2 separate regions of the Homo sapiens genome follow, and region 1 is linked to region 2. The links come from fine-mapping of genetic effects on gene expression. A gene starts in region 2. The other region holds a variant in brackets. All regions are shown on one strand. Distances are from middle to middle.

Region 1 (8,335 bases), 73 kb before region 2:
CAGAAAAAAGGTAGGAAGCTGCAGAAAAAAGGTTGGAAGCCAGCAGACGTTGGTTCATAAGATTTTTAAATTTAATTTTTTTTTTTTTTTTTGAGACAGAGTCTAGCTCTGTCACCCAGGCTGGTGTGCAGTGACTGCAATCTCTATCTCCCGGATTCAAGTGATCCTTCTACTGCAGCCTCCTGAGTAGCTGAGATTACAGGTGTGCACCATTATGCCCAGCTAGTTTTTGTATTTTTAGTGGAGACAGGGTTTCGCCGTGTTGGCCAGGTTGGTCTCAAACTCCTGACCTCAAGCAATCAGCCCGCCTCAGCCTCCCAAAGTGCTGGGATTACAGGCATGAGCCACTGCACCCAGCCAGTTCATAAGGATTAACTAAAGAAACCATTGCCATTATACAGAAGTACAAAGTGAAGCAGCAAGTGCTAATTTAGAAACTGCAGTAAATAATCCAGAAAATCTAGGTAAGATCATGGATGAAGGTGGCTAAATGAAAAAACAGATTTGGAAGGAGATGACATCTAGGATTTTCATAGTTGAGAAGTCAATGCCTGGCTTCAAAACCTCAAAAGCACAGGCTCTCATTTTAGGGGCTAACATAGCTGTCAACTTTAGGTTGAAGCCAATGCTCATTTACCATCTTGAAAATCATAAGGCCCTTAAGAATTATGCTAAATCGACTCTGCCTGTAAACAGCCTAGATAACAGCACATCTGTTGACAGCATGGTTTACTGAACATTTAAAGCCCACTGTTGAGACCTACTGCTCAGAAAAAAAGATTCCATTCAAAATAATAACTCATTGACAAGGACCTGGTCAGTTACCCAAGAGCTCTTATGGAGATGTACAAAGGGAGAAATGCTTTCATGCCTGCTAACACAACATCCATTCTGCAGCCCATAGATTAATTCCCACTTTCAAGTCTAATTATTTAAGAAAGGCATTTCATAAGGCTACAGCCGCCGTAGACAGTGATTCCTCTAGTGGACCTCAGTAAAGTCAATTGAAATCTTCTGGAAGGAATTCACCATTCTAGATGCCATTAAGAACATTTTTGATTCACAGGAGGTAAAAATAGAGACATTAACAGGAGTCTGGAAGTTGATTCCAACCCTCACAGATGACTTGGAGGGGTTCAAGACTTCAGTGGAGGAAGTCACTGCAGATGTGGTGGAAACAGCAGCAGAACTAGAATCAGAAGTGAGCATGAAGATTGAACTGAATTGCTGCCATCTCATGATAAAACTTGAATAGATGAGGAATTGCTTAACAGATGATGAAAGAAAGTGGTTTCCTGAGATGGCATCTACTCCTGGTGAAGATGCTGTGAACACTGTTGAAATGACAGCAAAGGATTTAGAATATAATAATACATAAACTTAGTTGATAAAGCAGCATCAGATTTTGAGATGATTGACTCCAATTTTGAAAGATGTTCTACTGTGATAAAATGCTATCAAACAGTACTGCATGCTATAGAGAAAACTTTCATGAAAGGTGAGGTCAATCAGTGCAGCAAACTTTATCACTGTGTTATTTTAAGAAATTGCCACAGCCACCCCAACCTTCAGTAACCACCACCCTGGTCAGTAGCCTTCAACATTGAGGCAAGATCCTGCAGCAGCAAAAAGATTATGACTTGCTGAAGGCTCAGATTATCGTATTTTTTTTTAGCAATAAAAAGTATTTTAAATTAAGGTATGTATGTTTTTTGACAGAATATTATTGCATATACTTAATAGACTATAGTATAGTATAAATATAACTTTTTTATATGCAGTGGGAAACCAAAAAGCTCATGTGGCTGGCTTGATTGCAATATTTGCTTTACTGCAGTAGGCCGGGGCTGAACCCACAGTATCTCCAAAGTATGCCTGTGTTAGGGGAAGGGGTACTGCAGGAGGGGAAATCTCATGAGGAAAGTCAGCCAAGTGATCACTTGATATTTCAAGACACAAGAAATTCAGCACTGTAAAAAATTAAGCTCAATAATTATACTGCCACGACTGTATTTCCAGTGTACAAGGCGCCAATAATTGGATCACCCACAAGACAACACACTGCGTTTAACATTTTTATTTTTAACTCCGCTTTGGTAGTACAAAAGTCATAAAAGTACAAACCAGACAGTTAAAAATACACTTGACACTCGAAATGGTGAAAATTTTCCTTACAAATTTTTACATCAAGGTAGTAGCCAACTCATTGATGACACCAAAAAGTTGTCCATCATTAGTGTTTTCTAGAGAAAGTCTGTTGTGGATTCCCTCATCCTTAGAAAGGAGGAGGAGTAACACAAGACCTGTAAACATCAGTTGCTTTGGGAACACAGGAATTCTCATCAGATAGTTCAGTATAAACCAGTAAAAAGCGTATGTGTTGAAAATACTGAACGCTTAATTTTGGCAAATTTGGAAGCCTGCCAGACAAAAACCGCTCAAGTATTTATTAGAAAATATTTAAAACATACTCTTGGTATCAATACAGTTTTAAATATTTTTGAGTATTCTCTTGCCTGTTGTATTGCTATTTAAAAAAAAGTGCTCTGACTTGAATAAGATGGAAAAATAATTAAAGCTAAAGAATATCTTACATTTTATCCCCCACCATTTTGAGGGCATATTTTTAAAGCAAAAAAGTATGCTTATTTGTTTTTAATTAAAATGATTAGCCTAGACTGCACATATATTATTTACACTAATACATACCCCTAAAAGTCCTATATTGCTACTTTCTGGATCTCAGTGAAATTTATTTCCATACTGACTTTCTCCAGTCCACAGTGTATATGAATATGTACACATACAGTGTTTATTAGTTGTCAGTAAAAATTCTCATGAAACTAAATTCCCCATTTATTTAAAAGGTTAGAAATGTTTAGTTTGATGCTGGAAATAAAATCATTGAAGTCTATGTACAGTAAATACTTTGAAGTATATTTTTATGGAAATCATCTTTTGGGAGACAAATGAAAGATGTGCATTTTCCTATATGAAATAAAAGAAGTGCTCAAGGCACCCCCCAACACTGACATGGAGGCGGGTCTTGGAGACCTTGTAACTGGCCTCCCCCACAGCTCACCCCAGAGCTACCATAAATCATGTAATACTATTTATGCCTCTGGGTCCTTTCAGGTGTTTTGTAAAATGTACAGTTATAAAAAAAAAAAAGAAAAAGAAAAGTTTGCCAGGCCTAAAGGGAAAAGTAACTGGAGTGTTTTAAATAATGAGCATTAGTTACAGGATGAAAAACAGGAAATACACAAAGAAAAACATGCCAGAGGTAGGTGCAGGCCCATCTTATATGAGAAGCAGGGTTCTAGGCCGGGCGCAGTGGCTCAAGCCTGTAATCCCAGAACTTTGGGAGGCCGAGGCGGGTGGATCACGAGGTCAGGAGATCGAGACCATCTTCGCTAATGC[G/A]GTGAAACCCCGTCTCTCCTAAAAATACAAAAAAAATAAGCCAAGCGTGGTGGTGGGCACCTGTAGTCCCAGCTACTCAGGAGGCTGAGGCAGGAGAATGGCGTGAACTCAGAAGGTGGAGCTTGCAGTGAGCTGAGATCGTGCCACTGCACTCCAGCCTGGGCGACAGAGCGAGACTCCGCCTCAAAAAAAAAAAAAAAAAAAAAAAAAGAGAGAAGCAGGGTTCTTTTGTTTTGGCCTTGGGTTGTCCAAACAAATTTGTGTGTGTGTGACTTTCAACCATTTTCTCCTTTATTCAATGGATTAACCAAGAATCGCTCAGCTAAAGGTTAAAAAAAAAAAAAAAACAAAAAAAAACAAAAAACCGGGTGCAGTGGCCCACGCCTATATTCCCAGCACTTTGGGAGGCCGAGGCGGGTAGATCGCCTGAGGTCAGGAGTTCAAGACCAGCCTGACCAATATAGTGATACCCCGTCTCTACTAAAAATACAAAAATTAGTCGAGCGTGGTGGTGCATGCCTGTAATCCCAGCTACTTGGGAGGCTGAGGCAGGAGAATCGCTTGAACCTGGGGAGGTGGAGATTGAGGTGAGTGGAGATTGTGCCACTGCACTCCAGCCTAGGGGACACAGCGAGACTCTGCCTCAAAAAAAAAAAAAAAAAAACCTTCTCAAAATGTGTAAGTGCTGTAGGAGTGACATGGTGGTGGCAGGAGTTAATGCTGAATTTGTGGTCAAGGAATCCAAAGTCTAGCATCTGGTCCCATCTGACTCCATGGTCCCTTGGGGAATCAACTCCTCAGGGCTAACTAGATTATTTCCACTGAGCTTTTACCACTGAAGATTCATCTTTTATCTTTTGTAACAGCTAACCTGTATGTATCAAGATCTTCTTACAACCAGTGTCAAAATAGGATGCAGGAACTGGAAAAAGAAACACACACTCACGTGCACACATGCATACACATATACACACACACCCCTGAGCATAAGCTCAGACTGTACATGAATAGTATCACTGCACATACTCATCATAATGGAAAAACTACAGTGTGTACACCAAGGCCTGGGATTAGGGGCTGGGAAGAGTAGAGGCTGGGAGTGGTTAAGAAGATAAAAACAGCTCTTTCCTTCCCTGGAAGTATAATAAAATTTTCAACAGACTCTTTCAACCAAAACTTGTTTCAAAGCAAACTGAATTCTGTATATGGCACAGCAATAATATTCCCTTTTAGGTTTTATCCACGTGCCTGCTGACTCCATGATAGAAACTGTATAAAATATATAAAAATATTCCCAAGGCAACTTCATATAAGTTTTCAGTCTCTTAGAGCTCTTCAAGTCAAGTCATTGCTGCAAGAGAAAACAAAAAATGTAGATCTTTAACCAAGGGTAAGCATCATATCACATATTAATCTGCCTGAATATTTAAAAACACAGAAGAATTATAATCTATTCTTACCCTGTCCCATCCCATCCCACCCCATTCCTTCTACCACTGTACATTTTTTTCTAGAATTCAGGCTAAAGAAATTTAAGTAAAATATAATTAATTCCAAGAGTTCTCTCGAGATCTGGCTGTTTAAATGTATGTGCCCCTCCCCCTTTCTCTCTCTTGCTCCTGCTTTTCCCATGTGATGTGCCTTCAATAGGTGTCTTTCTAAAGCCCCACCAAAGCCAGTTCACTGGAAGTCTCTACTGACCATCCAAGACAGCACGGTTGGGATTTCAAGTAAGAACACAATGATTAAATATTCCATCTTAGGTCTTTATTGTACCTTCAGGGTTCTGGATTGTATTTTTAAGTCATTCTAACAACTGGCCCTTGTCAATGTCTACGTTTACATCACAAACAAAGGCCCATACTTGTAAAATAGCTCCCTGCTTTTCAAATGACTTTCTATAACTATCTCATTTAATGAACAGCTCTGTGACTTTTTACTTTCCTGTTTTACAGACTGGCATAACCCAGGACAGGACTAAAATTATAGAGCTCCCCGTGTATGCTGAAATACACATACCATGCAGGTGAACCCACACAAGGTTAAGGAACGAAACGTTCTCCCACCTGCCAAAATCATGTGTACCCTATAAACACTAAACAAAACCAGAGATAGACCCAGCTTGCAGAAATATGAAGAAATAGCATGAAGTTGCTAGAAGTGTTTTGAAGAACATACTTTTTACTTATTTTACAGCTTGTCCTTCAAGATATGTACCTTATTATTATCTATGTTATCCTCTTCTGTCATTTGGTCATCCATAATATTCAATGGTATATTCAATATAATATTCATTTGGTCAACCATAATATTCAATATTATATTCAATATAATATTCAAAGAGAATAGAGACAGAGCACAAGAGGAAGAATGAGGGAGACAGACAGAAAGAAAGAGATTTATTTCCCAAATGAGATGATGAGTAAAGGACCTTTATCCCCTTAGCTAAAAAGGAAACACTGTCCAATAAAACAGCATGGATCAAGTTTTTAATTCTAATGAAATACGTAATACCCTGCACTGAATTGCCAAAACTGTACAAGAACTGCAGATTTTTACTGTAAAACTGAACAAAGTCAAGTCTGGAACTACTTTCAGGTAGGTGTCAATTCATATAAACATTCTAGCAGAGGGGGAAAAAAGGTAGAAAGGCCAGAGGTAGAGACATATAAAAATGGCCCTAAAAAAAAAAAAAGGAAAAAATGAGAGGGAATTTTCCAGGCAAAACCTTAAACTAGGCCATTATCTAGAAAACAGGTATGGTATTCCACTGTTTTTATGTCTCCTCTTTATGTGCTCCCTTAGAACTAGACATTTTTGCATCAAGGAAAATAACAACGTCAAAGGTGGGGGATGTCAGGCCTAGAAACTAATGTTTCATCACAGTAACAGTTTTCACTGCAACCTAGAAACACTCCTCATTTTGAGTGTTTTGCACAGATTTGACCGGCTTTAAGAACTGGGCATGCAAGAATACAGGCTAAGCTAAAAAGGAGGGGCCTGGATTCAAATCCAGACCCCTACTCCCAGCCGTGGAACCGTGGCTGTTTCTGTAGCATTCTCTCCTAGGGTTACTGGGGATTTGACATGAGATGATCCTATGCACAACGCTTAATACGAGGAAAAGCAATCAGTATGCTCCGAAAGGTTAACTATTCTGGTCATTACCATCATCCAATTCTCTGCTCTCAACAATCACATTAGCTTTCTTCAACAGCTGCCTTCTGCAGCTGATAAAAACTGCACTATCTGTAATATCTTTGAGAGAGGAAGTAAAAAATACAAATCACTGCTTAAAGTCCTCACTGCTAATACCAGAAACTAAGCAGAAAAGGGAAAGCTAATCTTATTAAAACCCTTGCAGTTCTGGTCTCTAATTACAAACACACATTTATTAGAAGGTAGCACATTACTGGCACAACACTATGACCTTCCAGGTATTTCTTTAACCCAGAACAATAATAAAAGTGTTACAAGGTGCCTTCCATATTGTCCTGCAGCAGTCAGAAATCATGTGTGGGTGGGCACAGAGACACCAGAAAGGCTAACAGGAGTGGGTGAGAGAGGAAACACCCACCCACTCACTGTTCCCAGTTGCCATCACATGGGACCACACCACACTGAGCAAGCCTGGCCTATCTCTCTTCGGGAGAAATTTTGTGATGACAGTTTACACAAGTGAGTACTCAAGCTGGAAAAAATTAAGCGAAGTTCCATTACATGGAAAACAGAATTCAGAAATCCCAAAGTGTAACCATTTTGCTTATAAAACAAGACTGATGGATAAAAATTAAGAACCGCCCAGAAGATTTATCTGGAACAAAGGAAGAGGTTGTCTTTTTCTTTAGAGTTTATTGCTTATGACATAATCTTATAAAGATAAAGCCATAATCCTCTCATTATACTATGGGTCCACGGAAGCTGCCATATGTCTCTGATTAGGATATACATACAAATATCTATGCCTTGTTAAAAAGGATTCTCTAGAAAAAAAAAAGAAATTGATCCCTTTAAAAATTAGAAACATGTTATAAGAAACTAGGAGCCTAAGCGGATTAATGAACAGTAAATGCTAAAATCTCTAAGTGTAGGATGTTAAGGAAGAAAAAGTCTATCTGATTAATAATAACAGCACTGGCATTTGCAGAGCACTTTCTCTGTGCCAGGTACTGTCATGCTAAGCACTCTAGGGTCATTAACTCAATCTTCCCGATGACTCCATAAGTCAATGATTCCTATTTTCATAGGAGGAAACTGAGGCTTCCAGGTTCAATAATTTACCAAAGGCCACACAATTAGTAACGGGAAAGTAGGAAATCCATCCCAGGCAGTAAGACCTGGAAGACCACAAAGCTACCTCCATGCTGCACTGCTATCCAGTCACCCCGGACACACCCACAGCATCACTGGAATCCTCTGGTACCCTCGCTTCTCTGCTCCCCACCTGTGTGGCAGGCAACAGAAAGGAAATGCAGAAACTAGAAATGCTGCCAGGGTCTCTCTCAGGGGAAATCACTGTGGTTGCATGAACAGTTAAATGATGCTAAAAACCTATACTTTAAAGGGGCCCAGTCCCTGGGAAGATCAAAAGTATACACCTACACAACACTGAATTCTGATCTCATTCTAAGACAAGGCTATGGAACCACACAGTCGGATTAATAATTCTCTTGACCACTTTTAAATAAAATAAATAGAGAACGTTGTTTATAGAGCTACATGACAGCAATATTAACACTGAAGTCCCGGAGCTACATTTAAGTGATCAATCACTAATAATCTGTGCTCCTTTAAGGCTCACACTTCTTAGTTAGAGATTTATCTTGTTCCAGGCTCTACTGACCATTCTGCAGTTACACGCTTGCAGGTTATGATGGCTGTGCATGTGACACCATGGTCCTGCAATGGTACTGCC
Region 2 (8,335 bases):
TAAATCAAGCCTAATGCGCACTCTGGAGAAAAAATACTATATTTTTTAAAGATACACAGGATAAAAGATATATGCCACTTTGCCATTTACCCAGAACTTTCAGAGACAAGAGCTCAGTAAGACAGAGCAGCCAGTAGGACAGAGAGACAGGTGTTGGCACAATGCCCATTTTACAGGTGAGGAAATGGAGGTGGACAGAACCATATGCTGCAGGCATCAGGGTCTCCTTCTGTTTTTTTTTTTTTTTTTTTTTTTTTTTTGAGACGGAGTCTTGCTCTGTCACCCAGGCTGGAGTGCAGTGGCACGATCTCAGCTCACTGCAACCTCCGCTTCCCAGGTTCGAGTGATTCTCCTGCCTCAGCCTCCCCAGTAGCTGGGACTACAGGCATGTGCCACCACATCCAACTAATTTTTGTATTTCTAGTAGAGACGGGGTTTCACCATATTGGCCAGGCTGGTCTTGAACTCCTGACCTCGTGATCTGCCCGCCTTGGCCTCCCAAAGTGCTGCGATTACAGGCGTGAGCCACTGCACCCGGCTTCCTTCTGATTTTTGACTTCAAGTCCAAGGCCCTGACTTAAGGCTTGGTGCTCTTTCCACCATAGCATCCCATGACCTTGTTACTTACTGATTCTTTACAAATATGTTAGAATAAAAAGAATTTTCTTACTCAAAAAAATAGTTTAGTAATAATAAGCATGGACTTCAAAATCAAACAGATCTGACTCAATGGACTCCATGACAAAATCCAGCTTACACATGAGTGACTTTTTCAACTTCTCTGAGGCTCAATTTCCTCATCTACAAACACAGGAATAAAATTATGTATATAACTGACAGGAAATTAATTGTAAGAATGAAATGATCTAGGTATTTAGACTACCGCCTGCACACAAACCAGGTAATAATAAAAATTGAATTCCTTTTTCCTAAAAGAGTAAAGTGTCTACAGTGTACTAACACCAAATTCTGATTTTAGTTTTTATAAATCACACCAGAATTATTAATATACCCGCTTTCAGCAGCACACCAAATCTTTACAACCACTTAAGTGTCCGAAATTATTAGGAACCACTCAACCTAATAGTTTATACCAATGACAATTTAATTTATTCTTTTTGTCAGCTTTAAATCATTTCTCTATTGTTTCAATAAGTCATTAAACTTCAACATTAGGGCCAAAGAATCATTTTTAAAGAAACAATAAAATCTGTTGTTTGTTCACTTGGGGCTTTGGTCTCTCACATTCAAATTCAACTCTTCAAATTTCCAAATAGATTCATTTCATTTCCATTTTTAGAGGGGGTAGGGGCAGGGAATTGACAGAGACTTCTCACATTTTTCATTTCCTTTTAAAATTAAATGTAGATATGGACTCCCAAGCTCCAAGGTGTGCTTTTTCAAAACTTTCCAAACACTATATATTATGTGGATGTACAGCTTCGCAGCTACCTGGCTAAGAGAGACCCCAGAATTTAATAAAGCTTATCTTTAGTTTCTAAAAAGGAGTCAGAATGCTGGAGGGAAGCCTGCAGCCCAAGGACAATGCATTTTTCATCTCACCAGCCCCAGGACCTCTTCCACCCACTCCTTACTCGAGGGCTATGCCCACTGTCTGAGAGAGAAACTAATAAACCTGAAGGTTGAGTAACCAGAGAACTTAAGGACATTAATAAGCCAAGACGTGGAAAATCATCCCTTTGGGTGCTTGTGGTATATAGTTTCGAATGCTGCTGCTAAGAGACAAGTTTAATGAGATTCTTCTACTAGGAAGGAAGTGAAAAAGGCATTGCCACTACCCACCGTGAAGCTATCTGCCCTTCTTTTCTCTACTTGACAACTTCTGATAACCACATGCTTACAATTTTATGACGTTCTAAACTATCTTAGAATCTCAGCGAGATTGCAGAGGTTGACTCATATTCTATTTTTCCTCTGCAGAGCAGTGGGGTACAGTGGAAAGGGAATGAACTTTGGAATCAAGCAGGCTGGGTTATCCCAGATAAAGATACATATAAAGGTACACACATACACAGACACCTCCTAGTGGTTCTGCTTCTCTGAATGCTGACTGGCACAGTACCTATGTGATGTTCAGCCAGTTGTTTAACCTCTCTTGCCTCAGTTGCCTTACTGGAAGTAAGTATTTCACAGGGTTATGAGCAATGAGTTTAAAAATGCCTATGAAGGCTGGGCGCGGTGGCTCACACCTGTAATCCCTGCACTTTGGGAGGTCGAGAAGGGCGGATCACTTGAGGTCAGGAGTTACAAACCAGCATAGCCAACATGGGGAAGCCCCGATTCTACTAAAAAATACAAAAATTTGCCAGGCATGGTGGCGGGCGCCTATAATCCCAGCTACTAGGGAGGCTGAGGCAGGAGAATTGCTTGAGCCTGGGAGGTGGAGGTTGTAGTGAGCTGAGATCGCACCACTGCACCTCAGCCTGGGAGTCAGAGCAAGACTCTGTCTCAAAAAACAATAAAAATAAAAATAAATAAACAAATAAAAATGCGGCCGGGCGCGGTGGCTCACGCCTGTAATCCCAGCACTTTGGGAGGCCAAGGTGGGCGGATCACGAGGTCAGGAGATGGAGACCATCCTGGCTAACACGGTGAAACCCCGTCTCTACTAAAAATATAAAAAATTAGCCAGGCATGGTGGCGGGCGCCTGTAGTCCCAGCTACTCTGGAGGCTGAGGCAGGAGAATGGCGTGAACCCGGGAGGCGGAGCTTGCAGTGAGATCGCGCCACTGCACTCCAGCCTGGGCGACAGAGCAAGACTCCGTCTCAAAAAGAAAAAAATAAATAAAAATAAAAATGCATACAAAGTACTCAACCCAAAGCCTGGCACACAGCAGGCACTCAACAGTATTTCCCATTCCTTTCCCTCTACTTCCCTATGCTCAAGGTACAAACATTAACACCATCTTTGGTTGCAAGGGGATCAGATGTTGGCTGGTCAGAGCATCTTCTCTTTACACACGCCTCAAGATACTGGCAAATTTGTGCTCTGTATCCTTTCCTTTTTAGACACCTGTTTCTTCTTCCGCATTAATTTTCATCAAAAAAAAAAAAAGGCTGTCATGCAATTAGATGAGAGCTTTCATCAGTCACATTCTAGTCCTGAGACCTGGGTGTTGCTCAGAGGTCAAACCAAACACACACCCACTCTAGGGATGGATTTCTCCTGCTGATGATGGCTAATTACATGCATCATGTGCTGAATTTTTAATAATTTTACTCCCAGATTAAACTCTTCCCCAGATTCTGTTGCAACTGACTCTAACCCTCTAATGAATGTCTCCAACCTCACATCCAAGTGGAACCTGATTATGCACCTATGTGTCCCAGCAATCAAACGCAGGATGAAAATCAAAATGAACCAGCAGGGCATGGTGGCTCATGCCTGTAATACCAGCACTTTGGGAGGCCGAGGCAGGAGGATCACTTGAGGTCGGGAGTTCGAGACCAGCCTGGCCAATATGGCAAAACCCCATCTCTACTAAAAATACAAAAATTAGCCGGGCATGGTGGCACATGCCTGTAATCCCAGCTGCTCAGAAGGCTGAGGCAGGAGAATCACTTGAACCAGAGAGCTGGAGGTTGCAGTGAGCCGAGGTTGTGCCACTGCACTCCAGTCTGGGTGACAAAATGAGCCCCTGTATCAAAATAAGGAAAAGAAAAAAAAAATTGTCCCATCCAGTAAAACATGTCACTAGCTGCCATTTCCCCAGGTGGATGGCTAACGGAAATACGGGCCTGCTAAAAAGACTCAGGAGACAATATTATCCATCTCCTTCCCTTCCAACCTGCTCTGGTTTCTATGAAAAAGTGAAGGCCAAACTGCTAAGTCAGTGTAAAAGTTGTAAGCGACTGAAATGTTCTCAGGAGGAAGAGTTTATGGATGTTTATGGAGGAGACAGTCACTGTTGAAAGGCTTCCAGTTGCTTATTATTTGGGCCTGAGGAGGAACCACCGCTGAAATCAAGCTTGGAAGAGCTTGCTGACGTCAGATTCCCAGCTGTAGTAACCCCAAATGGCCAAGTAAGTATGTTTTTTTTTTAACTGCAGCTGTTAGGTGGCAATTAAGAGGGGAAGCGGTGGTAAGGAATCCCTAGTGTCTGTAATTATAAAAGCAAGGATGTGACATAGGACTTCCATAAAACTTACACCTCCTCTTAAGATTGATTTCAATTAAAAACTGCTTCATCGTTGGTGACACTTTAGCATCTCTGTTGGTGGCTTCCTGCCCTGACCACACAAGGTTCCTTTCGTGACGACAGGAATCAACAAAAAGAAGAAAAAAATGTAAGTTTACCAACGCGCCTTCCCTTTTTCCGAGCCTGATTTATACAGGATATATGGGAAGAAATGTGGACTCCTTGACCTGTTACAAGAATCCATCAACCACCCAAATAAATGGAAACGTGGAAAGAGATTCAAAGTCCTCCAGGTTTTAGGATATTTTAAGGTATTTAAAAGGGAGAAGGAGGCGCCGACAGCGCACCCGGTGCTCTGTGTCACGATCTTCCGCTCGCGGCGCCTTTGAGGACAAGGGCGGCGGGAAACGGGTCCGCGGGGTTCCGAGGCGAGCGGCCGTGGAGGAAGCGCCCCCGAAGAAGGCCTGGTCCCTACGCCCCGCACTGCCCAGCGCTGGGGAACACAGATCCTCGGAGGAGGCCCCAGGGAGGGAAGGCGGGAGCGGGGCCCGCGGGAGGGGAGGGACGGGAGCCGTTGCCACGCACCGCGCCCTGCCCGGACCGCCGCGGGACAGCCAGTTGTTCAGTGCCGGGATCCCGCGGCTGTGCCAGAAAGCAGGACGCCGCGGGGCTGCCGTCCCGACCCCTCGCTTCCTTCCGCGCTCCCGGGACCGGGCTCAGCACCCGGCGCCCCGGCTACGACCGGACACTCACCCGGAGCCACCAGCGGCGAACTCACGGCGCCTCCCACGAAGACAGCAGCGGCTAGGACGGCGGACCCCGGGAGTGCCCGCGGAGCCATCGCCGCGTCGCTTCGCCCTCCTCCCCCAGGGCGCCGCGTCCCGCGCTCGGGAAGGCAGAGCCGCTCCGGAGCCGGCGGGCTGATCGAGTGGCTGGGCTGGGCCCCAGGGAGCGGCGAACCCCGCCCCGCCATTGCCCCGCCCCACGCCACACCCACCTCGGCTCGGTCCCGCCTCTCCCCGCGCGCCCCGGGCTCCACCTAAGCCGGCACGAGGTCCACTCATGGCTCCGCCCCCGACTCCCCGCCCACCTCAGCCTGATCCCGCCTCTCCCTGCCATTCCCGCTTCCTTTCCAAACCCCGCAGCAGCCTCAGCGGCGTAGCTAGGCCATGGACACGCCCTCTTTCTCCACCCACCTCAGCTTGGCCCCGCCTCTCCCTACCGAGCCCCGGACTCCACCTAAGAAGGCACGTGGCCCATCCATGGCCCCGCCCTTTTCCCCACCCACAGCTCAGCCCGACCCCTCCTCTCCCGCTTCCTTTCCAAACCCAGCAGCAGCCTTGGCGGCGCAGTTAGGCTATAGCCCCGCCCTTGCGCCCTGCCCACCGTGGCCCGGCCGTGCCTCTACTTGCCAGGCCCGCTTCCTTTCCAAGCCGGGCCGGGATTACGCGGGAGCCCGGGGCGGGGGGAGGGTCGCCCGGGTGCAACCTCCCTCGGTCGCTGGGACTAGGCGGGCGTGGGAAGAGAAAGAGGGAGCGCGCCCCGAGAAGCACTGGACAGTCAGAAGCGGCCAGCACTGGAGTGAGCACAGGCTTTTTTCGCTGTTGGCATGTCTATCCACTAGCATTCCCCTCGGTTGCAGATCTAGGGAGTGATGCTGTGCTGGATGTCACGTTCTGTTGTTTGGAAATTAGCAGAAAAGATAACTTAAATTTCTTCCTCTGTTTGTTTGCATTTAAGCTGCTCCTATTGGGGAAAATACCTCTATGCATTTTCAGGAACAACTTGCCTTTTTTTTTTAATCGTGTGCTTGTATTGCACCTTGCGCATACTCCCGCAAAGTAGGTCTTTCAATGCCCAGACGCTTATTATCTCCTCACATCCTCACATCAGCTCTGCGAGGTGACTATTAGAGGCCAGGGAGTAAACCCACGATGTCTGGGCCACCATGATAAATTGTAATTATCTCATTGTCATTGTGTTTGCTCGCTGCTGTGCCCTCAGCGCCTGGATGGAGGACAGACAGCACACGCTAAGAGGTCAGAAGTGTTTTCTGAAGTTGAATCATCTTCACAAGCATTAATAGGACTCAGAGGCTCTCTCTGAATAGTTCCTTTTTACTGCCCTGTAGAGACTGTTGTTACTGGGCCATCAAGCATTTGCTTGAAGGAAATTAGGGCAGGACTTGAGCAAATACTCAACACCAGCAAGAAGAGGGGGTGCATGGAGGCTGTGGGTTTTCACAGGATGGGTCTCATCCTTGAGGTGACTGATAACCTCTAGTTTTCAGAGGACTATTTATTCTCTCACCGAGTCCTCCACGCAGTCTGCTGGACTATTATTACAAACATTGCATTGATGTGGGAATTGCCAGTGACAGAAGCTCAGGCCACTACAGTACAGATGGCTGAGGCTGAAGGATGGAGCCCCTGCCCTTTGAAGCCCAAGGAGGGCACTGCGCGTCCTGCGCTCAGTTGGCAGCGCATCCTACAGTCTGGCAGTCTTAGCAGGCAGCCTTTGCTAGTTTTATATCAACATAAACATTGAGAATGTGTGCGGAGGAAAGCGATCCATGTGGATTTCTAACTAAAACAGGAGAGAATCCCGGACCTAGAAATTAAACTATAAATTAGAAGTTGTAGCCAGAACCAGCTATAAAATTTGCAGGGCACAATGCAAAATGAAAAGGCAGGGCCTTCTGTTCAAAAATCGTTAAGAATTTCAAGATGGCAACAACACAACATTAAATCGATTGTGGAGCCCTCCTAAACACACAGTTGCACAGGTCACACACTTATAAAGCCAGCTCTGGTTTTGTAAGTTAGAATGTAACAAAATGCTTGAATCAAGAAATCTAATCAAAATGTAAAATGTCATTTCAAAATTGAATCATGTTTCACTCTTTTCCCACAGATTGGACTTAGTATTAAAAAGATGGGATCGTTTTTGGCTGGGCGCAGTAGCTCAAGCCTGTAATCCCAGCACTTTGGGAGGCCGAAGCAGGCAGATCACGAGGTCAGGAGATCGTAGACCATCCTGGCTAACACGGTGAAACCCCATCTGTACTAAAAATACAAAAAAGTAGCCAGGCGTGGTGGCGGGCGCCTGTAGTCCCAGCTACTCGGGAGGCTGAGGCAGGAGAATGGCGTGAACCCGGGAGGCGGAACTTGCAGTGAGCCGAGATTGTGCCACTGCACTGCAGCCTGGGCAACAGAGCGAGACTCCGTCTCAAAAGAAAAAAAGAAAAAAAAAAAAGAAAGACGGGATCATTTTTAACAACACATTTGAATTGTATATCTGTTATGGCTCTTCAAATATAAAAATCTAGTACTTAAGCCTTACCCATTATCTACCAGGCCCTTTGTTTTACAGATGAGAGATGGTTAAGTGATCTGCCTGACATATCTACTATGAGCCAGGGTTGAAACCCAGGGCTCTGAAATTTCTCTTCCTAAACTTTCCATAACACCTGCTTGACACACTCTCTATAAATGTCTTACTTTCACGTACCCCGTATACATGCATTTGTATGTCTTGTTAAAGGAATGAAGGAAGGGTAGGAGGAAGAGAGGGGGAGGGACGGAGGAAAGTGAAGAAGGGAAGGAGAGAGGAAAGAAAGAAAATCAAGCTTAAATTATTTTCCATATCCTTAACCCTACAGATTTATTCATACAATTTAAATAGCTTCTACATATGTATATCTAAAAATCCACTGTTTTATTTTAAAAGTAAGAACCCCAATGTAATGGAACTTCTATTCTCTATTATGAAGGGAATGTCATATTTCTTCTGAGGACATAAAATGGAAATCTTAAAACTAAGTTGTATTTCCATTTTTTCAGAAACAAAAGTAGAGTTTTAATAATTCTTAAGAATAACTGTCATTAATTAAAAACAATAATCCTCATTCTGCCCTTAGATTTAGCCCAATCCTATGGTGGGAACTCTTTTTGTATTCTTTCATCAATTCCTCACAATGATTTTATATTTAGGGAATCATTGTTAACACTCCTCACTTCAAAGCTGAGGGATTAGGGCATTTACCTGAGTCACATGGCCTCTCCCTGGCACCACCAGGATGCAAATCCAGGATCAGCTCCCTTGGGCCCACACTTGCAACCTCCTCTTGCACTATTCTGCCTCTGAAATGCAGAACTCCAGCCAACTAGCTCCTC

What was found. PIP is the estimated chance that this variant, and not a neighbour inherited with it, causes the effect.
Region 1: its variant is fine-mapped to the expression of RELL1 in whole blood (TOPMed, PIP above 0.99).

Annotation. Positions count from the first base shown.
Region 1 is chr4:37,608,572-37,616,906 of GRCh38, forward strand. RELL1 (RELT like 1) reads right to left here. Exons shown (of 7, transcript NM_001085400.2): 7 at 2,063-4,771. Among named protein-coding and RNA genes, the nearest start is that of RELL1, 74 kb to the right of the region's middle. The variant G/A (reference allele first, on the strand shown) is at 3,421.
Region 2 is chr4:37,681,287-37,689,621 of GRCh38, forward strand. It overlaps RELL1 (RELT like 1), which reads right to left and starts at 5,090. Exons shown (of 7, transcript NM_001085400.2): 1 at 4,914-5,090. The coding sequence starts at 5,001. RefSeq lists an enhancer at 1,488-1,537 and silencers at 4,629-5,298, 5,479-5,788.